4 linked regions of the Homo sapiens genome follow. The protein of the gene in region 1 purifies or fractionates together with the protein of each later gene. This does not show direct contact. Each region holds a gene or a part of one and is shown in the gene's direction. Other genes may lie near its edges.

Region 1 (7,322 bases):
AAGATGAAAAGCTCTACCCTGCAGCATTATTTGTAACAGTAAGCACTTGAAGACAAACAAAACATTATTATTATTATTTTTTTTTTTTTTTTTTGAGACAGAGTCTCGCTCTGTCGCCCAGGCTGGAGTGGCGCAATCTCGGCTCACTGCAAGCTCCGCCTCCCGGGTTCACGCCATTCTCCTGCCTCAGCCTCCTGAGTAGCTGGGACTACAGGCGCCCACCACCATGTCTAGCTAATTTTTTGTATTTTTAGTAGAGACGGGGTTTCGCTGTGTTAGCCAGGATGGTCTCGATCTCCTGACCTCGTGATCTACCTGCCTTGGCCTCCCAAAGTGCTGGGATTACAAGCATGAGCCACCGCACCTGGTGACAAACAAAACATTTAAAAATAGTTGGCTGGCTGATTATTTGATTTGATTTGATTTTTATTTTGATTTTTTTGGAGACTGAGTCTCGCTCTGTCACCCAGGCTGGAGTGCAGTGGTGTGATCCCAGCTCACTGCAACCTCTGCCTCCTGGGTTCAAGTGATTCTCCTCTGGATGAATATTTTTAGTGCTATCATTCACTGGAATGATGTCGCCACTAAAAAATTTTATTTACAAAATAAGTTTATTAGAAGTTATGATGGCTGGACGTGGTGGCTCACACCTGTAATCCCAGCACTTTTGGGAGGCTGAGGCAGACAAATATCTTGAGCTCAGGAGTTGGAGACCAGTCTGGCCAACATAGTGAAACCCCGTCTTTATTAAAAATACAAAAATGAGCCAGGCGTGGTGGCACATGCCTGTAATTGCAACTACTCTGGAGACTGAGGTGGGAGAATAGCTTGAACCCGGGAGGCAGAGGTTGCAGTGAGCCGAGATCGTGCCACTGCACTCCAGCCTGGGGAACAGAGTGAGACTCTGTCTGAAGAAAAAAAAAGAATCATCCTGACTTTCCTTATAGAGAGGGGGAGGGCAGAGAGTTTGTCCTGTGTCTCCTTTTTCTCAAAGAAAAGAAGGGACGTCCACCAAATTTTTAGCAGCATTTCCCACTGAATGACTGCATTATGGCAATCCTTATTATGACCCTGTTTTACGAGTTTTCTACAACAGCATGTCTATGTTTACAATCGGGAGAAAAGTGGTTTTTGCTTTTGCTGTTTAATATCTAACATGTGTTGTGACCTGTCCCTGGCCAACTTGTTAGGCGTGGAGATAACATAGTTGAATGAGAGGTGGACAGTTGCTCTCCTCAGCTTCCGTGTGGGGTTTGCCCCTTCCCTGTGTTAATAGTTGCTTTACCAAAACCTTTCAGGACTTTTTTTTTTTGAGACAGGGTCTGGCTCTGTCACCCAGGCTGAGTGCAGTGGTGCCATCATGGCTCATTGCAGCCTCAAGCCCCCGGCCCCCTGCCAGGCTCAAGCAATCCTCCCGCCTCAGTCTCCTGAGTAGCTGAGACTACAGGTGTGCTCCACCACGCCCAGCTAACTTTTTATTTTTTTGTAGTGATGGGGTTATCACCATGTTGCCCAGGCTGGTTTCAAACTCCAGGACACAGTCTGTCCTCCTGCCTCAGCCTCCCAAAGCGCTGGGATTGCAGGTATGAGCCACTGTGCATGACCAAGACTCTTCAGGATCCTAAATGGTTTCAGCAACAAACATTGTTTAGTTATGTAACTCAGAACTCCAGTATGGACATACTATGTGATGTGATTTTATTATTGCTTATATGCTTTTGTGGTTTTATTGTTTGTTTTTCTGTTTGTTTGTTTTGAGACAGGGTTTTTGTTTTTGTTTTGAGACAGGGTCTTACTCTGTCACCCAGGCTAAACTACAATAGCATGATCCTAGCTTGCTGCCCCCTTGAACTCCTAGGCTCAAGCAATCTTTCTGTCTCAGACTACCAAGTAGCTAGGACTACAGGCATGTGCCACCATGCTATGTTGTCTGGCTGGTGTTGAATACCTGGTCTCCAGTGATCCTCCCACCTCAGCCCCCTGAGTAGCTAGCACTACATGCGTGAGTCATGCCTGGCTAATTAAAAAAAAAAAAATTAAGAGATGGGGTCTTACTATCACAGCGTGAATCCCAAAATTGGGGTTCAGTCTGGGAGGCCACATGGGTTCTTGGCTTCCCACAAGAAGGAATTCAAGAGTGAGCCAACAAAGTAAAATGAAAGCAAGGTTATTAAGCAAGTTAAGGAATAAAAGGGGGGCTACTCCATAGGCAGAGCAGTGGCATGGGCTGTTTGATTGAGTATACGGGTATTCCTTGATCATATGCTAAACAAAAAGTGAATTATTCGTGAGTTTTCTGGGAAAAAGGTGGGGAGTTCCCAGAACTGAGGGTTTTCCCATTTCAGACAATATAGGGTAACTTCCAGACATTGCCATAACATTTGTAAACTGACATGGGGCTGGTAGGAGCGAGTGTCTTTTAGCACAACAGTGCATTATCATTGGCATATAATGAGCTGTGAGGACGACCGGAGGTTGCTTTCATCGCATCTTGGTTTTGATAGATTTGGGCTGCTGCTTTACTACATGTCATTTTATCAGTGGTGTCTTTGTGACCTGTACCTTGCAAACCAGTCCTGAAGAACTCTTGTCTCATCACTGTGTTGTCCAGGCTGGTCTTCAAGTGATCCTCCTGGCTTCAGAGTGATCCTCTCACCTCAGCATCCCAAAATGCTGGGCTTGCAGGCTTGAGACACTGAGCCAGACCCTGTTTATTCTTGAATTGTTTCCAGTGAATATATCTCATCGTCTCCCCCCAAAAAAAGGTTGCAAGTTTTTGGCCAGGCGCGGTGGCTCACGCCTGTAATCCCAGCACTTTGGGAGGTGGAGGCGGGCAGATCGGGAGGTCAGGAGATCGAGGCCATCCTGGCTAACACGGTGAAACCCCGTCTCTACTAAAAATACAAAAAAAAAAAAAAATTATCCAGGCTTGGTGGCGGGCGCCTGTAGTCCCAGCTACTTGGGAGGCTGAGGCAGGAGAATGGCGTGAACCCAGGAGGTGGAGCTTGCAGTGAGCCAAGATCGCACCACTGCACTCCAGCCTGGGCGACAGAGCAAGACTCCGTCTCAAAAAAAAAAAAAAAAAGGTGGCAAGTTTTTATAAAAAGAGAAAAATCATTCTTAGTATTTCTTTAATACCCTCTACATTGACCTCACTGGTGCAAAAAATATTAGTTTGCTGGTGAAAATTCACCTCGAGTTACTAAATATCTAACTTTCCCATAACTACCATCTGTTTGTCTCTTGTGGATCTGTTTGCCTAATATTTAAATGACCCATTCTTCCCCACTTTTACGAAAATAGCATTAATTCCCCTTTCACTATTCACACTTCCTTCATCGTCACAGTTTGACCAGCGGTCCAGGGTTTATGATCTCAAGCATGGCCATATATATCTATTTCACTTAAGACTCTGGAAAGAGCATAAAATCAGATGTAACTGTTTCCTATTTCATATAATAGGGAATTCCATCTCTAAAGTTATGACATTTGGCCTTTCAGTGGGTTTTTGTGGTTTTTACTATGGCTGTGCTTAGATTCCTTTTTGAACACTTTTCCAGTGGTTCCACTTGAACACAATCTTTGAGTCACATAGGAGAGGTGACATGATAGAGTGTAAAGCCAGAAAGAGCACGATTTGGATCTCAGCTCAACTGATAGGGATCCGTAGCAAGATACTTCACCTCTCTGAGCCTCAGTTTCCTCATCTGTGCAATGGGAATCGTAACGCCTGCCTCTCAATGTTGTTAAGATTAAATATGTTGGCCGGGCGCAGTGGCTTACGCCTGTAATCCCAGCACTTTGGGAGGCCGAGGAGGGCAGACCACCTGAGGCCAGGAGTTCGAGACCAACATGGTGAAACCCCTGTCTCTACTAAAAATACAAAAATTAGCCAGGCGTGCTGGTGCAAGCCTGTAATCCCAGAAACTCAGGAGGCTGAGATATGAGAATCGCTTGAACCCAGGAGGCGGAGGTTGCAGTGCGCCAAGATCGCACCACTGCACTCCAGCCTGGGCAACAGAGTGAAACTCTGTCTCAAAAAAAAAAAAAAGATTAAATATGTGTACAGTACCTGTACCATGTTAGGCGGTCAGTAAACATTTGTTTAACTAACAACTGATAAGGATAGTAAAGAAGTATCAGAACACCCACCTAGTTATCCCAAAGGGCAGGAAGAGTGCTAGGTAATGGATATAGAATTCCTTTTAGAGTCAAATTACACGGGCAAAGATCAGCCCCTCCTTCAATTAAAAAGCCAGGGGCAGGGCGTAATAAGGAAGTGGTTCTCCTTCTTTAAGCCTCTTTTCAGGCTGAGTCCTAAACCTGAAGAAAGTTTAGAGCCTGGGGCTCTAAACTACCTGAGTCTTTCCAAACGACAAGCCAAGAAGACCTGTTGAAAGTTTCCTCTTAAGTTTCGTGGAGAGAGACTCAGGTATAGAAATATCCTTACTGCCACCTGACCTGAAGCAGAAGAAATCACAGACAGCTTCCAGACCAGGTAACACCAGGAGGCACCAGTCTTCATCCTCAGCCTTTGCAGGAGGACACAGCCTGGTCTTTAGCTGTTTGCCAAATGAGGCAGTCTAATTCAGGGAGCTCTTTACTGGGTTTATTACAAAGTTCTTATCATGTAAGTCTCAGGACACAAAATGACATTGAGAATCTAGTTTAGCGGGGTTTCCAGGAAAGACGAAGAAAGGTTATTTAGGTTTCTCTTTCATTTCTCTTTTGCTACAAAGGGTTTGGGACATTCAGTTAAGAACACATTACTGGTTGAGGTATGTGACGTTACTCAGTCTTCTCTGCTTATGTATCTGGGGAGGTATGCAATGACATGACAGCCATTCCGTGGCCAGGGACACCACTGCCCAAGCTGGAGACCACGAGGATTCAGGGACTGAAGCCAGCATGGGAATTCCTGGTTTGAGATCAGAGTCCTGAGTACCTCGTGGGAACTTGGGCACTCATCCGCAGGAGGTCTAGACCCCCAGAGAATTCCTTGAGTCTAAGGCACAGGTAAATGGAAGACCCTTCTCTCTCCTCTCTCCCCTCTAGAAAGCTCCCTCCTCCCTGAGCTCCCTGTCCCCTTCTTTCCACAATCAGAGCCTCGGACCTTCTGTTTGGTGAATATGACCTGAGGCTCTGTCTAGCATTCAGCTTCTATTGTGGGAAGTTAAGGCACTTTCTCTCATTCCTCATTTCACCTTTAGTATTAAAGAACAGTCCAGGCAGAAGGCACGAAGAGCCTGAGAGGTCTGAAGTGAGGGGGAGAGGAGAGGGGCAGAAGGGGAGGCTCCGGACAACAGAACCAAGCTGAGCTTAGGATGTGCTGTGGGAGGCTCCGTGGGGATGAGTGTCAGTGCCCACGAGATCCACTCAGGCCTCAACTGTGTGTCCTGAGCACATGAAGTCAGCTCTTCTGCTGGGACAGCCACCAAGGGATTCTCCACACCCCTCACCGCTGGGACAGGCAGAGGCACAGCGAACCAGGTGTCCAGCGTAACTGGGGCACTGGGTGGTGGCCGCCTCTGTGTGTGGAAACACGAGGTGCTTGCTGCAGTTTCCTCTGTGTGCTTATCCGTTAGCTGCCACCCACCGGGAGGGAAGTGAAATCTCACCTCAACAAGTGAGTCCGCAGAGCGAGAACCGTGCGACAGTGCGTCTGCCAATACCTGGAATGTAGGTGTTCGTTGCAGTGTGGCCTTCCCAGCCGGCCTCTCAGCACACCCGGCCAGGCAGCCAGTGTTCCCAGAGGACACGCTGGGGCCAGACGTGGAGGACCCCGGCCACCTCGGGGAGGGAAAGAGACCAAGAAAAGAACCTCTGTAGCCTTGCTTCTGAGAGTGCAGGTTTGTTACAGGTAAGGATCAGGAAGGTAAACATAGGGCAGTGAAGCAGGGTTGTGTCCTCTGCGGCCCTGAATTAGAATAAGCCTCACAGGTCTCACCCAGGAACGGAAATCTCCCCTCCAGGTTCTGAACCAGCATTCAGAGGCCCCACCCAGGGCTTCTGTCAACATAAGCATAAAACTTATGGTTTACCTTTCCATAAACCCCAAAGTTGGGCTTCTTGTATAGAGTACAATTTCTGTAGGAAGAGCTGAAAGCAGAAGGGATCTAACCTGTGATAATACTCGATCGCTGCTGCTTGAAAGTAAGACTTAGCTATACACTGAACAATCAAGTAATTTATAACAAGGATTAGAGGAAACAAAAACTCTGTGTTTGTGTGGGTGGGTTTTTTTTTTTCTTTATTTTTGTTTCTTAAGAGAGTGTCTCCCTCTGCCACCCAGGCTGGAGTGCACTGGCGCGATCATAGCTCACTGCAGCCTCCAACTCCCAGGCTCAAGCGATTCTCCCCCCTCAGCCTCCCAAGTGGCTGGGACTGCAGGTGCACACCACCACGCCCAGCTAATTTTTTTCATTTTTTGTAGAGACGGAGCCAAGGCTGGTCTTGAACTCCTGGGCTTAAGCGATCCTGCTCCCTGGGCCTCCCAAAGTGCTGGGATTACAGGCGTGAGCCACTGGGTCCGGCATCTACATTTGTTAAATACATTAAAACCCTCTTAATCCTTTGTCTCCGTTTGTTCTCTTTTGCTCCCTGCTCTCCAGGCTCTTGTGGCGGAGGCCCCCGCTCCCTCCGCTGTAGGGTAGCCTCCTTCTGGGGCTGGCTCCTGAGCACTGTTCTTTCTCCTCTCTCTCATCCTCTCTCATTCTTAGCTTTGCCTGTCGACTGGGCCAAGTCACAGCCTTTCTGGCCTGTAAGACAACAAAAATCTCACATTTTACTAAATGGAAGGACTAAGTACTCTGTCTTGACTTCAGTGGTTTCCCCGATTTCTGATGTTGCTGCTGAAATAGCATTAGCAAGCTTGTTTCTTAAAGAAGCCCTCTCTCCAGTGACAATACTCCCCCCGCCACACACACACACATGCACACGCACACACAAACATGCATGCACGCGCACACACACACACAATTTTAAAGCCCTCGTGTTATATTAAAAAGGTCTGGATGTTTTTAACATACATGGAAATTTCTTCAGCAGCACAGTGTTACTGGTCTGACGAGGGCGCACAGCCTCCTACCCAAGGACACAGTTCCTGAAGGACCAGGGTGCACATCTGGCCTGCAGTGCCCTGAGCCACTCTGTCCAAAAGGAAGCCTTGAATCAAAAGCCTCATGAATCCTCTCCTGAGAAATTCCATGTCTGGTCTCTTGCTAGACTCAGCCTTTTCCCCACCAAGTCTGCCGCACCTAATTCTGACCTCACCCTGCTTGGTGGCCCGCTTTGCCTGCTTGCACGCACCTCAGGTCTCAGTG
Region 2 (7,027 bases), on another chromosome or scaffold:
TGCCATGTTGGCCAGGCTGGTCTCGAACTCCTGACCTCAGGCGATCCACTCGACTTGGCCTCCCAAAGTGTTGAGATCACAGGTGTGAGGTCAGGTTGTGTTTTTTTTTTTTTTTTTTTTGAGAGGGAGTCTTACTCTTATTGCCCAGGCTGGAGTGCAGTGGCGTGATCTCGGCTCACTGCAACCCCCATCTCCTGGGTTCAAGCGATTCTCCTGCCTCAGCCTCCTGAGTAGCTGGGATCACAGGCATGCGCCACCACGCCTGGCTAATTTTTTGTATTTTTATTAGAGACCGGGTTTCTCCATGTTGGTCAGGCTGGTCTCCAACTCCTGACCTCAAGTGATCTGCCTGCCTCCGCCTCCCAAAGTGCTGGGATTACAGGTGTGAGCCACCACACCCGGCTGATTATGCTGCTTTTTAGATGAGACGATAGTTTTTATTTTTAAATCATTTTTATTTATTAATTTTTTTGAGATGGAGTCTCGCTCTGTTACCCAGGCTGGAGTGCAGTGTTGTGATCTTGGCTCACTGCCTCCTCCACCTCCTGAGTTCAAGCAATTCTCCTGCCTCAGCCTCTGGAGTAGCTGGGACTGCGGGTGTGTGCTACCACTCCTGGCTAATTTTTGTATTTTTAATAGAGATGGGGTTTTGTCATGTTGACCAGGCTGGTCTCTAACTGCTGACCTCAAGTGATCCTCCCGCCTCTGTCTCCCAAAGTGTTGGGATTACAGGTGTGAGCCACCGTGTCTGGCCGAGATGATACTTCTAAAATAAGGCCCTTTGTTACCTGCGGTGGGCCGCGCTCTCCTCCTCTGTAGAATGAAGGCTTCGGTGTTTCTCAGCTTCTGTTAAACCTGTGCCTACTTTTGAGAAACATGAGCGCTCCAGTCTCCCCCGCTCAGTATTTTGATATGTCCTCCGAGGGGTTTTATGCCTCTTTGTTGGAAGGTGATGTGATTTTGGTTCTTTCGAAGGTGGTTTTTGTGTGCAGAAAAGACTCTTTAGGGAATCGTTGTGGGGAAAGGGCAGGAGAGAGTGGGGCGTCGTCCTTGAGAGCGTGAGCACTGGAGTCAGGGACTTGGGCTGAGTCACACACATGTAATATACTTGTGAACCGTTTAGATCCTGGGCAGAAGCAAGACATGTTGGGAGGCTAGGGTTTCCTTTTTTTAAAATTTAATTTTGTTCATACTTCTCTATCCATGTGTATTTTTGAAGTCTGTAGAGGTGGGGTTGTGATGTCCAGGATAGCCCCCGACACACAGTCCTCCTCCTCTCCGTGCAGGTGAGAAGCTTGCCATTAGAATTTCACAGAGGTCTTATAGCAATGTCACTTTAATCTTAGTGTCACCTGGGAGGGTTTTACTGCCACGATCTCTGCAGTCAGGCTTTGGTGACCTGAAGGTTATGCAGTTTTGGGCTTCCTATTTAAGAAAAAGAAAACAAAATTAAAAATGCAAAATTAGATAGAGGGCCATGGAAGGGGCCTGAAGCTGAACCCCATTAGCTCATGGTACAGCTGCCTCTGGCCATGGGGACCATGGCCAAATCCCCTCAGGAAGTGTCAGCCCACTGATGGGGACAGTGGAGGTGTGTATCGAGGCATCTTTTTCTTATTTGATACAGAGAGCTCATTTAATCTCCCTAACCTTTAAAAAAATTAGACTTTTTATTTGAGACTATAGTAGTTGTAGCTCCATGTGCATTTGTCAGAAATAATACTGAGGGATCCTATATACCTTTTGCCCAGTTTCCCCCCGTGGTGCCATGTTACAAAACCACAGTATGTTATCACAACCAGAATGTTGACTTGCTGACACCTTGAGGTATGTGTTACTATCCTCATTTTTATTCACAATGAAACTAGGGTTCAGGGAAGCACACAGGCTTGCTCCAGGTCACCCAGATCGTGCGTGTAGAGCTGGGAGTTGAATATCGGCCCTGACTTCCAGGCAGTGGGATTTCCATCATGACCGTCTGTAGGCTGGGGGCAGCATTCATTGGATTGTTCATTTGTTTGTTTGTTCACTAATCCCTTCAACAAACATGTATTGAGGATCTCCTATGAGCCAGATTCTTTCACGTGGGTCATCTAATTTAATTTTTCCCCAGCTCTGGGGAATCAGGTAATAACGTTTTCTTTTTATATCTGACAAAATTGGCTCAGAGAGGTTATGGCAACTCTCCCATTTATAAAGGAAAGGTGGTATATTTGTGTAATCTCTCCTTTTATGTTAGGCACAATGCTAGGCCCTTTACATTCGCAACCTCCTCAATCTAGATACAGTTTTATAAGGCAAGTTCTTTTTCTTTTAATTCTTTTTTTTTTTTTTTTTTTTTGAGATGCAGTCTGGCTCTGTCGCCCAGGCTGGAGTGCAGTGGCGCCATCTGGGCTCACTGCAAGCTCTGCCTCCCTGGTTCATGCCATTCTCCTGCCTCAGCCTCCCAAGTAGCTGGGACTACAGGTGCCTGCCACCACGCCGGGCTAATTTTTTGTATTTTTAGTAAAGATGGGGTTTCACCATGTTAGCCAGGATGATCTCGATCTTCTGACCTTGTGATCTGCCTGCCTCAGCTTCCCAAAGTGCTGGGATTACAGGTGTGAGCCACTGCGCCCCGCCTCTTTTTTTTTTTTTTTTGAGACGGAGTCTCACTCTGTCACCCAGGCTGGAGTGCAGTGGCGCAATCTTGGCTCACTGCAGCTTTCACCTCCCGGGTTCCAGTGATTTTCCTGCCTCAGCCTCCTGGGTAACTGGGATTACAGGCACGTGCCACCACACCCGGCTAATTTTTGTATTTTTAGTATAGGTGGGGTTTCACCATGTTGGCCAGGCTGGTCTCGAATTCCTGACCTCAAGTGATCCGCCAGCTTCGGCCTTCCAAAGTGTTAGGATTACAGGCATGAGCCACCATGCCCGGCCAAGACAAGTTCTATTATCACCACTATTTTGTAGCTGAGGAGTTCCAGGGAGCCCGGAATTCAAATCCAGATGTGATTGCATGGTGGATTTTTCTTAATATCCTGTTGAGGGGATGGGGGAGCAATTACACACGTGTTTATTCATTCACTCAACAGACATTTTTGAGCACTGACTCTTACTACTCCTGGTTAGGTGGTGAGAATAGAAAGACAAGAAACAGCCCCATTTCTGTAGAAGCTCCATGCTGAGGCCAAGGGACTGAAGGTCAACAGTTACAGCATTATGATCAGAGCTGCGACAGCCACGTGTAGAGCCCTAAGACCTGTTGATGCCACGGCTTTCCTTGGGGCTTCCCCTGCCTCTGGGTAGTGAAGGTCACAGTCACTGCCTCCCAGGGTAGGCTCTCAGCACTCAGGACTCTGTGTCTCACAGCCTCATTTCTTCTCTCTGAACAGGGACTTCAAAATGAGCGTCCCTGACTACATGCAGTGTGCTGAGGACCACCAGACGCTGCTCGTGGTGGTCCAGCCTGTGGGCATCGTCTCCGAGGAGAACTTCTTCAGGATCTATAAGAGGATTTGCTCTGTGAGTCAGATCAGCGTGCGGGACTCCCAGCGAGTCCTCTACATCCGCTACAGGCACCACTACCCACCCGAGAACAACGAGTGGGGTGACTTCCAGACCCACCGCAAAGTCGTGGGCCTCATCACCATCACAGACTGCTTCTCGGCCAAGGACTGGCCACAGACCTTTGAGAAGTTCCACGTGCAGAAGGAGATCTACGGCTCCACACTGTATGACTCCCGGCTCTTTGTCTTCGGGCTGCAGGGGGAGATCGTGGAGCAGCCGCGCACCGACGTGGCTTTCTACCCCAACTACGAGGACTGCCAGACGGTGGAGAAGAGAATCGAGGACTTCATCGAGTCACTGTTCATCGTGCTGGAGTCCAAGCGTCTGGACAGAGCCACAGACAAGTCTGGGGATAAGATCCCCCTTCTCTGTGTCCCGTTTGAGAAAAAGGACTTTGTAGGACTGGACACAGACAGCAGGTAAGCTTACCTAGAGACCCAGGCCCCTTGGCTTCCCTGCATCAGAAAGGGAAAGCACAGGGCAGAATTTCATTGCAGCAAGGAGTAGAAAGGTGTTGTCCATTGGTTTTTAAAACTAATGACTTTCTGTCAGAATCTGTTTGAGTGCTGCTAAAAAAACCAACCAAACAAAAACCAGTGACTTTTAAAGACAGAGACAGCCTTTGGTTGGGGGAGTCCTTTAGAGTTGTCTTGTACACTCCCCTCTTTTTAGTGGGGCTCCCCTCGTGGGACTCCTGGAGCTCTGTCCCATACAGCAGCCACAGCCAGTTGTGGCTTTTGGGCACTAGACACGAGGCTAGTTTTAGTTGAGATGGGCTGTGAATAAAACCCACGCCAGATTTTGAGACTTACTTCTGAAAAAATAAACTTTCTTGCTAATTTTTTTTTGAGACAGAGTCTTACTCTGTCTCTCAGGCTGGAGTGCAGTGGCGCGATCTTGGCTCAGTGCAACGTGCACCTCCCGGGTTCAAGTGATTCTCATGCCTCAGCCTCCCAAGTAGCTGGGACTACAGGCAGGTGCCACCATGCCTGGCTAAGTTTTGTATCTTTAATAGAGACAGGATCTTGCCACGTTGGCCAGGCTGGTCTTGAACTCCTGGCCTTGAGTGATCTGCCTGCCTTGGCCTCCCAAAGTGCTGGGATTACAGGTGTGAGCCTCTGTGCCTGGCCAACTTTCTTGCTAATATGTTTTATACAGATTACATGTTGAAATGATAGTATTTTACATATCTTAGGTTAAATAAACTATATTTTAAAAATCAGTATCAACTGTTTCATTCTTACTTTTAAAAATGTGGCAACTAGAAACTGAAATGTACTTACGTGGCTTGCATTTTATTTCTGTTGGACAGCACTGTGCTAGAGCACAGTTTGAACAGTTTTATTCAGTCTCGTCCCTTTGGTTCACAGATGAGAGGGTGAATCTGGAGAGGTAAGGGCTAGGTCCTAGCTGAGCTAGAAGTAGAGCCCACGTCTCCGGATTGCCAGGCTGTGCACCCTGCGTATGTGGCTACTTTTTCCCTCCTGATGGCCACAGTGTCGAATTCCTCACTTACAAAGCAGCCAAGCATGGATATCAGGATGCCAGAAATACCACCTGGGAGCTCCTAAACAGCTACCGTATACAAATGAAAAGTATGTCTGTTCTCTCTGTGTACAAGGAGTGTTGGATAGAGCAGGAAAAGGTCAGCTTCCCATCTTGCCTGTTATTAAGTCAAAAACTTTATTTCAAATCAAAATTGCAGATGAGCTCTTCCTTGCCACTTCCTTCCACTCTCTGCTTGCTGCTGTGTCTTGCCATGGTGGCTGTTCTGCAGAGCTGGATGAGATGCAAGCCTAGGCAGCAGCTGTTTGCCAAGAGGGCGTCCCCATTTGCCAGGGAAAGTGATGTGTCACTGTGTCAGTCACTGGCCTCCTGGCTTGGACAGGGCTCTCCCTCCTCCTGTATAGGATTGGCTGATGAGCCACAGGTGAGGATTCAGTGATGTAAGGTGCATGCCACCATAGTGCCTGCTGCAAAGTAGGTGCTCAGTATGTTTCTGAAATTTATCTAAGGTCACACGGTGTCGTTCTGGTTGTTGGTAAGTATGAGGAGAGATGATCACAGAATTGAGACACAGTAGTCTTAAATCCAGCCCTCAGAGTTGGAAGCATGGAATAGCCTCAGTCGCACCTGCCTGTGGTGCTTTGCAGGGTCTGGAAGGAAGGAATTTTCATTTCTTCACCCAAATGTGCATATTTGGCTTAAGGAAAGGAAAAGGCATGCTGTAGACCTGCTCTGTGTTTAATCCTCACGGCAGCCCTGTGATCTACACGGGGTTGCTGTGCTGGCTGATGTGGGGCTGAGGCAGCAAGGTTTAGAGACCCGGGCAGCCACCAAGCAGCAGAGCTGATATAAGCACCAGGTCTGTCTCTGAGGCCCGGGGCCTTTCTACCTCACCTTGTTGCCTTCTGCTGCGCCTCCTGTGCCTCGTGAATAGCGCACACTGCTGTCCAGCCAGCAGGCACTGTGGGAGTCATCCCTGATAAGGTGTTGCTGTATGGTGTGCACAGCTTGGCGGCCACCTGCCAGGTCGGCAGGGAGTGGCCTGCCCCTGCTTTACAGAGAAGGGGTGAGGGGTTGAAGCTCACAGGCAGCATGGGTCAGGAATCCTGCTCTGACCCCTTGACTCATGCCTTCCTCCTTTGCCACATGGGCATCAGTGACATTTTTCAGTCATCCACTTCTTGGCTGTGAGGTTGCAGATCCACCTTCAAATGCCAGGTCTTTTTTGCCTTTTGAAATCTGAGCTCACAACTCTGCAGGAGGAGCGGGAGTGTGCTGTGACGCAGTGCGTCACGCATAGTGGATAAGGACTGACAAGTGTTTGTTAGAGCCTTCATATGCCAGGCATGGCTCCAGGCACTGAAAATACAGTGGCACATAAAGCTGCTTGCTCACTGTAGTGGGACAGCCGCAATTAGACATCAGTTAGCATTTGAACTTCAGTGAGATAATGACACCAGTGAACTCAAATCAAATACATCCTCCTCTCATAATGGGTAACCTGTTGTTGCTTTTGTTTCTCCATGGTTCTCTAATTTTTTTTTTTTTTTTTTTTTTGAGATGGTGTCTTGCTCTGTCACCCAGGCTGGAGTGTGGTGGTGCAGTCTCGGCTCACTGCAACCTCCACCTCCTGGGCTCAAGCGATTCTTTGTGCCTCAGCCTCCTGAGTAGCTGGGATTACAGGCGTGCGCCACCACACTCAGCTAATTTTTGTATTTTTAGTAGAGACAGGGTTTCACCATGTTGGCCAGGCTGGTCTCGAACTCCTGACCTCAAGTGATCCACCTGCCTCGGCCTCCCAAAGTGCTGGGATTACAGGTGTGAGCCACAGTGCCTGGCTGGTTCTCTAATTTTTGAAGGAATGCTTTGGTGCAGGAACAAAGCCTTGTCTCCCCTGCAGCTCTTGGTAGGAGTGAGGAAGTGTCCAACCTGAAATGGGGTGGTATTTTGTAGCTCAACAGGAAATGTC
Region 3 (7,370 bases), on another chromosome or scaffold:
TTAAAGAAATTATGAGAAGGGCCGGGTGCAGTGGCTTATGCCTGTAACCCAGCACTTTGGGAGGCCAAGGTGGGCAGATCACCTAAGGTCAGGAGTTCAAGGCCAGCCTGGGGAAGACCCCCTGCCGTCTCTACAAAAAATTAAAAAATTAGCTGGCATGGTGGTACGTGCCTGTGGTCCCAGCTACTTGGGAGGCTGTAGTGGGAGGATGGCTTGAAGCCAGAAGACTGAGGCTACAGTGAGCCGTGACTGTGCCCCTGCACGCCAGCCTGGGCGACAGAGCAAGACCCTGTCCCCCCACCAAAACATTTTTTTTCTCTTGATCTATTTCACCAGTTTGAGTATGATATGCCTGCATGTAATTTTCTTTGTATGTGTTCTCTTCAGGTTTTGCTGAATTTCTTGATCTGTAAATCAGTATTTTTCACCACGTGTTTGGATTTGGAGCCATCATTTTGCAAAAATGTTTCCTTCCTAGACTCATACTCTCCTTCTGGAGCTCCGATCACACATGCTTTTGGCCATTTCATACTGTCCCATAGGTCTCTGAGGTTCTCTCCACTTTTCTTCAACTTTTTTCTCTTCTTCAGATTAAATAATTTCTATCCATCTGCCTTCAAGATCCCAAACTCCTGTTTTCTCCAATCTGTTAATCCAATTCAGTGAAATTTTCATTTCTGTTATTGTACTTTTCAGTTCTAGACTTTTCTTTTGATTCTTTTAGATACTTTGTTATTCTGCTGTGAATTTCTGATTCTTTACTCATTAAGACAATATTTTCATTTAATCCTTTGGACATATTATTTTTATTTATTTTGAGATGGAGTCTTGCTCTGTCACCCAGGCTGGAGTGCAGTGGCACTATCTTGGCTCACTGTAACCTCCACCTCCCGGATTCAAGCGATTCTCCTGCTTCAGCTTTCCGAGTAGCTGGGGCTACAGGCGTGCGCCACCACACCCAGCTAATTTTTGTGTTTTTAGTAGAGATGGGGTTTCACCATGTTGGCCAGGCTGATCTCAAACTCCTGGGCTCAAGTGATCTGCCCACCTCGGCCTCCCAAATTTCTGGGATTACAGGTGTGAGCCACCGTGCCCAGCCTCCTTTGGACATATGTAGAGCTGCTTTAGAATCTTTGTAAATACAGAATCTGGTTCATTGTAGGGGGATTGGTTTCTGTTAACTGCTTTTTTTTTTTCTTAACTATGGCTTACGTTTTCCTCTTTCTTTGTATGTTTAGTGATTTTTGTTTTTTTAGTGTATATTCAACACTGATAAATAACAAATGAGGGAGACTCAGGGTGCTCTTCCACTGAAAAATCCTGACTTTCGTTCTAGTTTGTAGTTCCATTACTGGACGTACCATGCTGGGCTGTGTAGGCTTAGCTTTAGGCTCTGTTTACTGAGCAATGTCCCAGGTGTCTCCCAGGCCCCTCTTACTTGGCAGGACTTAACCTCCAAACTCTGACCGTCTTGTGGATCGGGTCAGGGTTTTGCTTTAGACGTTGTTAAGGCGGGCCTGGAGTAGTCCTTATTCTAGGGGAGGGACTGGCAACCTCTGGCTCACAAGCCACATGTGTTGATGGCCTGTTTTTGTACAGCACTTAAAGCCAGGAATGGCTTTTATATTTTTAAAGAGTTGTTTAAAAAAAAAAAAAAAACAAGCAAAAATATGAAACAAAAACTGCATGTGGCCCACACAACCTAAAATACTTATCTGGGCCCTTTATAGGTCGTTTGCTGACCCCTGGGAATGTGATTCTCAATCTAGTGTCTCAGCTCAATGTCCTCAGTGTTAATGGCATTAAAAAGGTCTTGACTGGGCACGGTGGCTCGTACTCGTCATCCCAGCACTTTGGGAGGATTAGGCAGGAGGACTGCTTGAGGCCAGGAGTTCAAGACCAGCCTGGGCAACAGAGTGGGACCCTCTCTCTACAAAAAAAGAAAAAATTAGCCGGGCGTGGTGGCACTCACCTGTGGTCCCAACTACTTGGGAGGCTGAGGTGGGAGGATCACTTGAGCCCAGAAGTTCTAGGCTGCACTGAGATAACGATCAAACCACTGCACCCCAGCCTAGGTGACAGAACAAGACTGTCTGAAAAGAAAACAAAACGGAAAGTCCTTTCCTGTAGCACTACTGGACCTCTAGTCTTTGTGCCATCCTCAACTCTGTAACAGCCGCTTCCTGGTAAACCCATAGAGTCGTCCCACACGTGTAGTCCAGCCTAGGCCAAGGACTTTCAGGGAACCCTACATCGACTTCGGCTCCCCACTCTTGCTAAGCTTCTTCCCCTCCAGTGCCCTGCCTTGCCGGCCTGCTGCTTTAGCTGCCCAGAAGTCTGGTCTCTTGCCTCTCACACCATTACAGTGCACCACACTACACTATGTTCACACATTTAGCAGCTGTGTTCACACCCAAACTATCTCATATATACATTTTGTTAAAAAAAACTTCAGGACTCTCTAAACTTATGATGCCAAGGGTGAAGTTAAGCCCTGGAGACTGAGTCAGTAGCAAGTTTGCAATTCTGCTTCTTCGATTACAGTTTAATGCTCTTCCTCCTTGTTCTTGAGCACAAGTGTCTTCCTCATTGTGGCTGCTCTGTAAATCAGGGCTCCCCGACCGCCAGGGCCACAGACACATACCGGTCAGGCCACACAGCAGGAGGTGAGCTTCAGGCCAGGGAGCAAAGCTTCATCTGTATTTACAGCTGCTCCCCATCGCTGGCATTACCGCCTGAGCTCCGCCTCCTGTCAGGTCAGCAGCAGCGCTGGATTCTCCTAGGAGGGTGAACCCTGTTGTGAACTGCACATTGGAGGGGTCTAGGTTGCGTGCTCCTTATGAGAATCTCATCCCTAATGATGTGTCCCTGGCTTCCATCATCCCTAGATGTGACCGTCCAGTTGCAGGAAAACAAGCTCAGGGCTCCCACTGATTCCACATTATGGGAAGTTGTATTTTATTACATATTACAACATAAAAATAATAAAGTGCACAATAAATGAAATGTGTTTGAATCGTCCTGAAACCACCCCAACTTTGTCTGTGGAAAAACTGCATTCTATGAAACTGGTCCCTGGTGCCAAAAAGGTTGGGGACTGCTGCTGTTAATGACTAAGAAAGACCAGGTCTCCCCCTTCCCATTTGGTGATTTTTGTTACAGATTAGCTGTCTCCATTGTCCTGTACCTGACTTAGACCAGACAGCACAGAGACCCCAGGACTGTTTCATCTTCAGTGGGTCCCCAAAGAAAAAGACCACCTCGACTAAACAGACTGTTGTAACTATGCATTAGGCCTTATACAGAAAAGACGCTGAAATTCGGTTAGGCTTCCCGAGACGCTGGCTATAGAAACGACCCCAAATTTCTACGTTTGAGAACACTGACTTCCATTCTTTATAATGTTTCCTGGGCGCCTCAAGCTTCGCATTTGACTAAACTCTAGATTCTGACCCTTTTGATTATTTTTGGTTGACAGTTTTTGTCATTTTATGGCTGGGAGTGATGGCTCACACCTGTAATCTCAACACTTTGGGAGGCCAAGGCTGGAGGATCACTTGAGCCCAGGAGTTTGAAACCAGCCTGGAAAACATAGTGAGATCCCGACAAAAGAAAAGAAAAGAAAAAAATTAGCTGGGCGTGGTGGCTGCCCCCGTGGTCCCAGTTACTGGCGGAGGGGGTGGGGCGGGGGGAAACAAGGCGGGAGGATCGCTTGAGCCTGGAAGGTGGAGGCTGCAGTGAGCCGTGTCCCGCCACTGCACTCCAGCCTGAGCCAACTGAGGAAGACCCTGCTCCAAAGAAAAAAAGAAAAAGAAACACCCGCGCCCCGCCCCCCCCGTTTACGTGCACAAGAAGCCCATATGCAGTTAAGTGTGAGGTTTATTTTGTGGCATTCCGAAATGCCGAGGGCCAGGTCCCCACAAAAACATTTGCGGCGTGAGGGAAACGGGAAGAGCCCAGCGGTAGGCGGAAGGCACGCGCCGGGGACACTCAGCGGCGAGGGCCTGCGGGAGCCCCCAGCGCGATAAGGAGCCCGGCCGGGGAGCAGCGGCCCGCCGCGGGACGCCCGAGCTGCGGGGAACGCGAGGGCAGCGAGGCCGGCGTCTCTGGTCCGGGAGCGTCCAGGCTCGCTCACCGCGCGCGAGGCCCGCCTGCCGAGTCCTGGCCTCAGCTCCGGCGCAGGGCCCAGCGGGGCGCCCACTGCCGAGGGAGGAAGATGGACGTGTCCCGGGAGCCCCGCTCCGCCTCCCACTTCCCACCTCCCGGTCCCGCGCGGCCGGCCCGGGCGCACTTCCGTCGGAGGCGAAGCGCGGCGAAGACCCGCCCCGTGAAGCCTCGCGCGCCCCGGAAATGGTCATGCGGCGGCGCCGAGGCCGGAAGTGGCTGAGGCCGGCAGCAGCGGGCGGCAGCTGCGGCGCAACCGGCTCCGGAGCTGCCTGGCGCGGCCGGGCGGGCGGCGCCGCTCAGGCTCGGGCTCCGGCTGGGCCCGGCGCGGCCTCGGGGCTGCCCATGGGGCGCGGGGGGCCGGGCCGGTGACGCCGGACGCCCATGGACGCCTCTGAGGAGCCGCTGCCGCCGGTGATCTACACCATGGAGAACAAGCCCATCGTCACCTGTGAGTGCCCGGAGGCGGGGAGGGCGCGGCGGTCGTTGGGCGGGCCCGGGCCCTGGCGTTATGCACCCGGCGCCCCCAGACCTTCAGCCCCCGGCGCGCTCCGGGCTGGGCCGCTTCCTGGAGGTGTGACCAGGGCTGCGGCTGAGGCGGGGCCCTCTGACTTTTCGGGGACGCCCTCTGACCTTCCCGCCGGGCGACCTCTGACCCCTGGGGGGCGCCCTCGGGCCGGCTGCAGTTGGAGCCGGTGGAACCCGGCGGACTCTGCCCGGGACTGGGCGCGCGCCGGCGTCGAGGGCGAGGAGCGGGGGCTGCCACCGCCCCGTCCCGCCCCCGTTGAGCCGCGCGCCCGGGACCTGGGGGCCCCGGCCTCTTCCGCCGGGCGGTTTTGCCCGCGGGCGCCCTTTCCCCGACTACGGGGAAGTCCTTGGGGGCTCGCAGAGTTGCAGGCGTTGGCGAAGTAGGAACAGTTTGTTGCGGGGTGAAGCGTCAGGCAGAGCCGCCGGGACTGCTTTCGCTCCTACACACTTCCCCGCCGCGCACTCAAACCATTTTACGGATGAGAAAGCCGAGGCTCGGGCGCTTAGGCGAGCTTGCTCCCCATGAACAGCCTCCCGCTCGAGTCTACACTACGGACACCTGGTGCCTCTTGGGTGTCGTGTCCTCCCCGCACCCCTCCTTTAATGCATACACAAAGGAACTGTTTTTCTGTTACGGGAAAAATGTTCCCTAAATTTTAGAAGTGTGACTCTCCAGAGTTAAATACGGTTAAGAACAGTGAGCTTATGGGAAGTATTGAAATGTTTGTTGGTTGGCTTTTAGGTGACTTGCAGAGAGGTGTTTCAGACTGTTACGATTTTTGACCTTTGACAGTATTCTGTATTTTCATGCATGTATGCAGTTAGTTTTTTTCTAGTTGTCTTTCGTGCTTGGAAAGGAAGCACTCTCTGTTGCAAAATCTGGGTGCCCAGGCCACAGTAGACTGTATGTCGTGAGAACTCCTGTTTCCCTCTCACTCTGTCAGCGGGTGTGCACCTGCTGTGTTCCTTCCTGTTAGATCCCTGAGAAACTGTATATTGAAGGTTGAATTTTGTTGCTTCAGCTTTAGGTGATAGACTTATTTCTTTCCTTCCTTTTGCTTTATTTTGTCTCTTCTCCTCTCCTCCTCTCTCTTTTTTTTCTACAGAGACCTAGACGAGATGATAGACTTTTCTTAGGGAAGTGGACTGTGTCTCATTTAAAATTGGAGACTTGCATAGTTCAGCAGTAGCTGTCTTTTTTCCTCCCCAGAATATTTGTCAGCTGAAAGTCTTTTCCTACTCTGCACCTTCAGCCCCAGAGGGCAGATGTGGGTAGAGCTGGTCTGCAGGCCCTGCAATTTCCCAGGGGCTTTCCCAGTGCTCAGGGAAGATGAAGCCATGCGCAGTTCATGTTAAGTTTTACTGTCTTCCAGAGGTTGAACATTTTTCTCCTAAAGTGCTGTGCACGTTGTGAATGCTGGATACACATTCATTGCCTGTACGGACATCCACACATCTAATTTTATCTTCTACCTCCTAGCTTGCTTACATTTCAATAGCAATATGTATTTATAGGCATTATGTAAATACATTTCTGAGGAGAAAGTTCCTAAGCTCTATTGGATTCAACCATAACTAAAGGGGTAAAGTTTGTTATCTGGTTGCCAGTGTTGGAGATATTTAATGTTTAGTTTTGTACATGCGTGCATCACGGACAGCTGAAGGATGCGGTTTTCTTTCCTACAGATTTATTGGATTGTCATCTTGGTGGTGGGTTTTTTCCTGTGTTTTGAGCAGCAGAGTGAATTTTTTTTTTTCCTTCTTCTTCTTTTTTGAGACGGCGTCTTTCTCTGTCGCCCAGGCTGGAGTGCAGTGGCATGATCTCGGCCATGATCTTGGCTCACTGCAACCTCTGCCTCCCGGGTTCAAGCGATTCTCCTTCCTCGGCCTCCCGAGTAGCTGGGATTACAGGCGCATGCTGCCATGCCCGGCTAATTTTTTGTTTGTTTGTTTTTGTTTTTTTTTTTTTTCAGTAGAGACAGAGTTTCACCATGTTGGTGAGGCTGGTCTCGAACTCCTGACCTTGGGTTGTCCACCTGCGCAGCCTCCCGAAGTGCTGGGATTACAGGCTTGAGCCCCCACCCTTGGCCTCAAGCAACATAGTGAATGTTAATCTCTGCATGGATGGTACACTGTCCTAGAAGGTGCAAACTTTCATTCATTGGAGTCTCAGAAGAGAAGGGGGCTTCAGTAGACTGTCAAAGTTAACTTGAAAAATGATCACTTTAAAAGTGAAGGTAAAAAGCTGACTTCATACTTCCCACTTGAAATTATGTTGTGGTATATCTGGGACTGAAGCTTTAGGAAGCACTTGGCCTGGTTTCACTTTATGCCTTCATCTTGCTCCTCTCTTTCAGCTATACATGTTTTGAAAGGAGAAGGTGGTATGAACAATTGCTTTAAAAAAATCCACCCAGAGGCTAATTAACCCTTAACTTTTTAATATTATGTACATAGTTCTCTTAGTAGGCAACATTTTTGTTTTCAAAAATCTTTTAAATTCTTACTTGAAATGGTATTACCTCAGATCTGTTCATTTTAAAATGAAAGTAGAGTTTATGCATGTTGTGAATTTTTTTTCCATAGAATGTATAATATTTTACTTCAGTGAAAATGCATTCTGCTTAGACCTTTCTGGGAAGAATATAGAATGTAACTGGTTCAGGTGAATTTAAAAA
Region 4 (6,047 bases), on another chromosome or scaffold:
CATCCGGCCTGATTGCCTATTTTCTATATTTTTGGGGTATCCAGGCTCTAATTACATTTTTATGGTTAATGTGTATATTTTCTCTCTTTTTTTTTTTTTTCGGACAGAGTGTGAGACTCACTGCAACCTCTGCCTCCTGGGTTCAAGTGATTCTCCTGCCTCAGCCTCCTGAGTAGCTGGGATTACAGGTGTGCGCCACCATGCCTGGCTAATTTTTTGTATCTTTAGTAGAGACAGGGTTTCACCATGTTGGCGAGGCTAGTCTCAAACTCCTGACCTCGTGATCCACCCACCTCAGCCTCCCAAAGTGCTCGGATTACAGACGTGATTACAAAAGCCACCCAAAATGCTGGGATTACAGCCTCCCAAAGTGCTGGGATTACAGACGTGATTACAAAAGCCACCCAAAATGCTGGGATTACAGCCTCCCAAAGTGCTGGGATTATAGGCCATGCCTGGCATATTTTCTCTTTTTTACTAACTTCTTAGTTTAATATTTCTGGTTCTCACTTAACTTTTTGGGATCTTGGTTTCTTCAGCTGTGAAAAGAGTAAGTTGGACCAATTCAGTGATTTCTAACTATTTTGAGTTATGGACATCTTTGAGAACTGGAACACCTTTCCCCATAAATACGCACATATACATGGTTTTTATTTTCATAGGGGTCACAAATTCCCCGATTAAGAACTCTTGGGATGAACAATCTCTAAGGCCTCTTCCAGCTTAAAATTTCATGACTCAGATCTAGTTACTTATTAGTGCCCATTTATGTATATTATTTATAAGATAATATTTTATATTATTCGTAGATAATGTAGTATGTTGAACATCATGCAGTATAGATGTGGGTAATCAAAAATTCCCTGAATTGCTAATTTTTCAATCCAGTTCTTGTCATGACTTTTGGTTTTGTAGCTCAGCCCTATTCCCTTTCTTTGTTTCTATATGACAGGGTTTCTCAACGTCCAAACTGTTGATACTTTCAACCAGATAATTCTTTGTTGTGGCAAGCTATAAGTCTTGAACAAGTCAAGATTCTTGGTTGTAAATAGGGGAAAGAAATTCTGCTTGTAAGCTAACAAAATTGATAAGCTCAAAGAATAGGCAATAACCAGGGGAGGTTAAGGCAGCCAGTAAGATAGCCAAGTCACTCTGCAGACTGTATCTACTTAGAATCCTGCAGGCAGCAGGGACTGTAGACACAAACTACCTTTACTGCCTCCAGAACTAATTCTGATCAGTTTCTGGCTTGTTTTTGTCACTGAGTCTAGATTCACAGTCCTGGACTGGAGTACTTAATTGGCTGAGCTTAAGTCTTAAGTCCTACGTCCATGCTTTAGTTTCCAGGGAGCTGGGAAATATATCAATATTTTTCAGTAATTTGAACAGTTCTTCAAAATCCTTTTTTTAAACAGGAATGACTTACTGATGATAAATCATGTAATGTTGTATTTATCAATAGCTTTACTATTTTAGTAAATCCTTACTATTTTTAATGATTTTTTTTCCTTTTAGTATTTAGCATTTACGTGTGGCTTAATCAGAGGTGGCTTATCAAACTTGGGAATAAAAAGTATTGTAACAGCTGAAGTGTCTTCAATGCCTGCTTGTAAGTTGAATTCGCCTTTCTTACAAATGTTTTAGTAATTTGTTTTCAGGTCTGTTTTTTTTTTTAATTTAACTGAGAGGAAATTTAAAATGCTGAAACTTTCATTTTAGTTTTATCAATGTAACACTTTAGTGTAGTAATATGTAGCATACTACATTCATTTTCAGTAATTTTTGAATAATGGACTAAAATCCAAATTTATAAGACAATTTAAGGGATGATTTTTAACTTTTCTAAAGTTATTCAAACTGTAACTTTTTTAAAGATATTCTTCTGAATATCTCCTGCAGTGTTTTAAGATAGCAAATTTCCCTAGAACATTGAAAATGCTATTTTTTTTTTTTTTTTTTTTTTTTGAGACGGAGTCTCGCTCTGTTGCCCAGGCTGGAGTGCAGTGGCACAATCTCGGCTCACTGCAAGCTCCACCTCCCGGGTTCACGCCATTCTCCTGCCTCAACCTCCCGAGTAGCTGGGACTACAGTTGCCTGCCACCACGCCCAGCTAATTTTTTGTATTTTTAGTAGAGATGGGTTTCACCGTGTTAGCCAGGATGGTCTCCATCTCCTGACCTTGTGATCCGTCTGCCTCGGCCTCCCAAAGTGCTGGGATTACAGGCATGAACCACCGCGCCCGGCCCGAAAATGCTATTTTTAAACAATTGTTTAGGATATGTCTATTATATCAAGCTAAGTAAAACCAAATATTCTTTTATCACTAAATGTCTCCCTAAAGATCTTTTCACCAGAGCTACCAACCAAGAAAAAATGGACTTGAGCTTTATTGTATTTCTTTTCAATTTACAATGATCATTAGCCATGAAATACTGTACCCAAATGTAGGATTCATAAAGAGAAACAAAAGTGCTTACTCAACAAACCATATAATCATCCCATAAAAATAGAATTGACTGGCCGGGTGTGGTGCCTCACACCTGTAAGCTCAGCACTTTGGGAGGCCGAGGTGGGCGTATCATGAGGTCAGGAGTTTGAGACCAGCCTGGCCAATAAGGTGAAACCCTGTCTCTACTAAAAATACAAAAATTAGCTGGGCGTGGTGACAGACGCCTGTAGTCCCAGCTACTCAGGAGGCTGAGGCAGGAGAATCACTTGAACCCAGGAGGTGGAGGTTGCAGTGAGCAGAGATCGTGCCACTGCACTCCAGCCTGGGCAACAGAGCAAGACTCCATCTCAAAAAAAAAGAAAAAATAGAATTGACTTTATTGAATATTATGAAGAATGCGAAAAAGTTTTTGACATAGCAGATTTCTTGACTGAAACTATTTCCTATATGGAACAGAAAATTGATGTTTAGACTTGTTTTCTTTGTATCTAAAATCAAAGAATTATTTGTATTTTTTTTTTTAGGCAAATTTCAGGTGATGATACAGAAGCTGTAGAACATACTGAAATGCAAGGCTTCAACAGTGTAAAGAGATAAATTATTCATGTAAAAGTATTTCAAGTAGTGATGATTTAATTACATTGTTCGATGTTTGTACAGGAGTAAGCATGTATTTTTATCAATTTAACACAGATCAAAGGAGATGAAGGGACATTCTGCCATGACATACACTTAACCAAAACTATTCAAAATGAAAACCGGATTTCAAATAACCAGACACCAAGATGCAGGGCCCTTATTTTAAACCTTTTTATTTGGTTAGAGTGATATGTATTTAGCCATAGATGGAGAAACAAAGCTCAGGGTTTGTTGAATTAGCATGAGAGAAAATTATGTACCAACAGAATTATTTGTGAGAAGAATGAACAAATTTTGATAAAGTATGAATTTGTTTTATTTTAAAAAGCAAACATACTAAATTTTTTTTATTTTATTGCTTATAATTTATTAAGAATGTTTACACCTGTATAAGGATTTCATATATACATTGTATGTGTGTATATATAAATACATATATGACTGCCTAAATTGTTTATAAATTTAATTTTTCTTTAATAGGTTTCATTCCTTCAGAGCTCCATTAATGTAATCAAAATGAAATATAGATTAGTTTAAATGTGAATTCAGTGACTCTAGGGCCAAAGAATATTAGGTATGTTTGGAAAGAATTTTTGTATTTATTCCTGTTACAGTTTTGACTTTCAACTTCTCTCCCCGTGCATGGAAGTCCTGGTAAAGGATCTAACATCTTTATTCCCTTCTTTCCTCTTCCAGCTGAGCAGAGTTGGATAATTGAATTAGTCATTCTGACATTCTTTGGACCATATCATCTTAGTGGTTTGGGGTCAGTGCTCATCTGATATATCTTTCTTACCACCTCTTCTACTTACTTTCTCTTACTTAAATTATCTGGCATAAGCAGTTATCTCCAGCTTTTGTTAGAATCTTGCATGTTGATTACTAAAACTATACTTTGTTTCCCATTTATTTATTACCCTTTTGCATGTATTTGTGTGACAGGGAACTCTGCAGCAGGGGGTGACTGACACACCAAACAAGATGTTTCACTGGGTACTCTGCCATAGAAATGGCAGATTAAGAAGATTGACTATACCAAACATTATATTAAAAACACAAAATAAAAACTATAAAAATGTACTTTAGGACATTAAAGAAAACTCAAGTTAGAAGCATACCATTTTCCTTTCATGGAAGGGTACAGTATTACAAAGATAATTTGTTTAACTTGATTTATTAAATTCTAGTTATGTGCCCTATAATGATGTTTCAGTCAGTGACAGACCTCATATATGGCAGTGGTTCCATAAGATTACAATACTGTATTTTTACTGTACCTTCTTTATGTTTAGATATGCAAGTACTTACCATTGTGTTACAGTGTCCTACAGTATTCACTACAATAATATGCTGTACAGGTTTGTAGCCTAGGAGCAATAGGCCATAGCTTAGGTGTATAGTAGATCATACCATCTAGGTTTGTGTAAGTACACTCTGTGATTGTACAATTTTAAAATCTCCTAATGATGATGCATTTCTCAGAATGTATCCCCTTTGCTAAGCAATGCATGACTGCAATCCTAATTCTCACATGTTTTGGGGAAAAAATTTTAATTTTGAAAAAATTTAGGAAAGTTCCTACCAAATATACATGTATAAAGTTTATTAAAAGTCATAATGACCCAGGAATAGCTAATGACACAGAAGTAGATCAAAATAGAACACAATAGAGAACTTCAAAATAAAACAGGTGTGAGAATTGTGTGTGTGAAAAAGCTGGGTTCAAATAAGTTGGTTTGTTAGACATTCATATGCCTACCCATCAGCCATTTCGTTCTCCCTTCCTTGCTGACAAAGCCCCATTTTTTTTTTCTTTTTTTTTGGCCTAAAACTCTGTATGGCTGCCTTGTGCTATAGAATAGGGTGCTTCCCTAGCCTAGAGAGGGTGAGTGTTGATTAGATTCTGTGCCAATCATGGTAATTGGCTTACTTGATCATTTGATGGAATCTAGGCTAACGAGACAAAGGAAGTCTGAAGGCTTTGAATAAGAAATTTTCTGTTGCTCTTAACAATTGATACAAGTTAGGGATTTGCCAGCATCCCTCTTCTGCTTCTCAGTGAAGATATGTGATATGGATGTTTGAAGCTAATCTGCAACAGCCTTCTGATGGCCATGAAAGGACAAGTATGGAGATGAAAGCTATCACACTGAGAATAGTGGGATGTAGATAGAAAGCACCTGAATTGTGCTTCTGAATTAACCAATCCAGGAACTGCTTTACCTTTGGACTTTTTGTTATGTGAGATATTCTTTATATTGTTCCATTTGCTTTGGGTATATGTATATTGTTACTTGTAGCCAAAAAGAAACCTCTCTTAGTAGAAACAAAGGGAGAGTTAGGTTATTCAAAAATTAGTATGGGACAATTGAATATGCCTTTTTCTGCGGGAGTAGGTGGGGAGAAACTTAAAGGTTCACTTGTAAAACAATAAAGTACTAAAGAAAATGTGATAATACTTTCGTGATTTTGTGGTGGAGAAGGCCTTTCCAACACACAAATGTAGGAAATCATAAAGGAAAACTATAAAACAAAGAAATGTAGTAAAATCTCTTCAACAAATAGTGTTGGGAAAACTGGACATCCACATACAAAAGAATGAAATTGGATTGTTGCCTTAATGCCATACATAGAAATCAACTTAAGGCCGGGTGTGGTGGCTCAAGCCTGTAATCCCAGCACTTTGGGAGGCCGAGGTGGGGCAGATCATGAGGTCAGGAGTTCAAGACCAGCCTGGCCAAACAGTGAAACCCTGTCTCTACTGAAAAAAATACAAAAATTAGCTGGGTGTGGTGGTGGGCGCCTGTAGTCCCAGCTACTTGGGAGGCTGAGGCAGGAGAATTGCTTGAACCCGGGAGTCGGAGGTTGCAGTGAGCCAAGATGGAGCCACTGCGCTCCAGCCTGGGCGACACAGTGAGACTCTGTCTCCAAAAAAAAAAAGAAATCAACTTAAAATGGA

The links.
Region 2: the proteins of BCL2L14 (region 1) and TRAPPC9 purify together in Homo sapiens (affinity purification with mass spectrometry; 4 studies listed by BioGRID and IntAct, with this or other methods). This does not show direct contact.
Region 3: the proteins of BCL2L14 (region 1) and TRAPPC10 purify together in Homo sapiens (affinity purification with mass spectrometry; 4 studies listed by BioGRID and IntAct, with this or other methods). This does not show direct contact.
Region 4: the proteins of BCL2L14 (region 1) and TRAPPC6B purify together in Homo sapiens (affinity purification with mass spectrometry; 4 studies listed by BioGRID and IntAct, with this or other methods). This does not show direct contact.

What each region holds. Positions count from the first base shown.
Region 1 is NC_000012.12:12,066,640-12,073,961, forward strand, and holds the start of BCL2L14 (apoptosis facilitator Bcl-2-like protein 14), read left to right. Parts: upstream 1-4,299; 5' UTR 4,300-4,498; intron 4,499-4,763; exon of another isoform or gene 4,764-5,016; intron 5,017-7,322. UniProt on the Homo sapiens protein: Plays a role in apoptosis.
Region 2 is NC_000008.11:140,447,734-140,454,760, reverse strand, and holds part of TRAPPC9 (trafficking protein particle complex subunit 9), read left to right. Parts: intron 1-3,377; coding exon of another isoform or gene 3,378-3,387; coding exon 3,388-3,971; intron 3,972-7,027. UniProt on the Homo sapiens protein: Functions as an activator of NF-kappa-B through increased phosphorylation of the IKK complex. May function in neuronal cells differentiation. May play a role in vesicular transport from endoplasmic reticulum to Golgi.
Region 3 is NC_000021.9:44,007,946-44,015,315, forward strand, and holds the start of TRAPPC10 (trafficking protein particle complex subunit 10), read left to right. Parts: upstream 1-4,363; 5' UTR 4,364-4,548; coding exon 4,549-4,615; intron 4,616-7,370. UniProt on the Homo sapiens protein: Specific subunit of the TRAPP (transport protein particle) II complex, a highly conserved vesicle tethering complex that functions in late Golgi trafficking as a membrane tether.
Region 4 is NC_000014.9:39,147,308-39,153,354, reverse strand, and holds the end of TRAPPC6B (trafficking protein particle complex subunit 6B), read left to right. Parts: intron 1-1,515; coding exon 1,516-1,609; intron 1,610-2,973; coding exon 2,974-3,005; 3' UTR 3,006-5,541; downstream 5,542-6,047. UniProt on the Homo sapiens protein: Component of a transport protein particle (TRAPP) complex that may function in specific stages of inter-organelle traffic.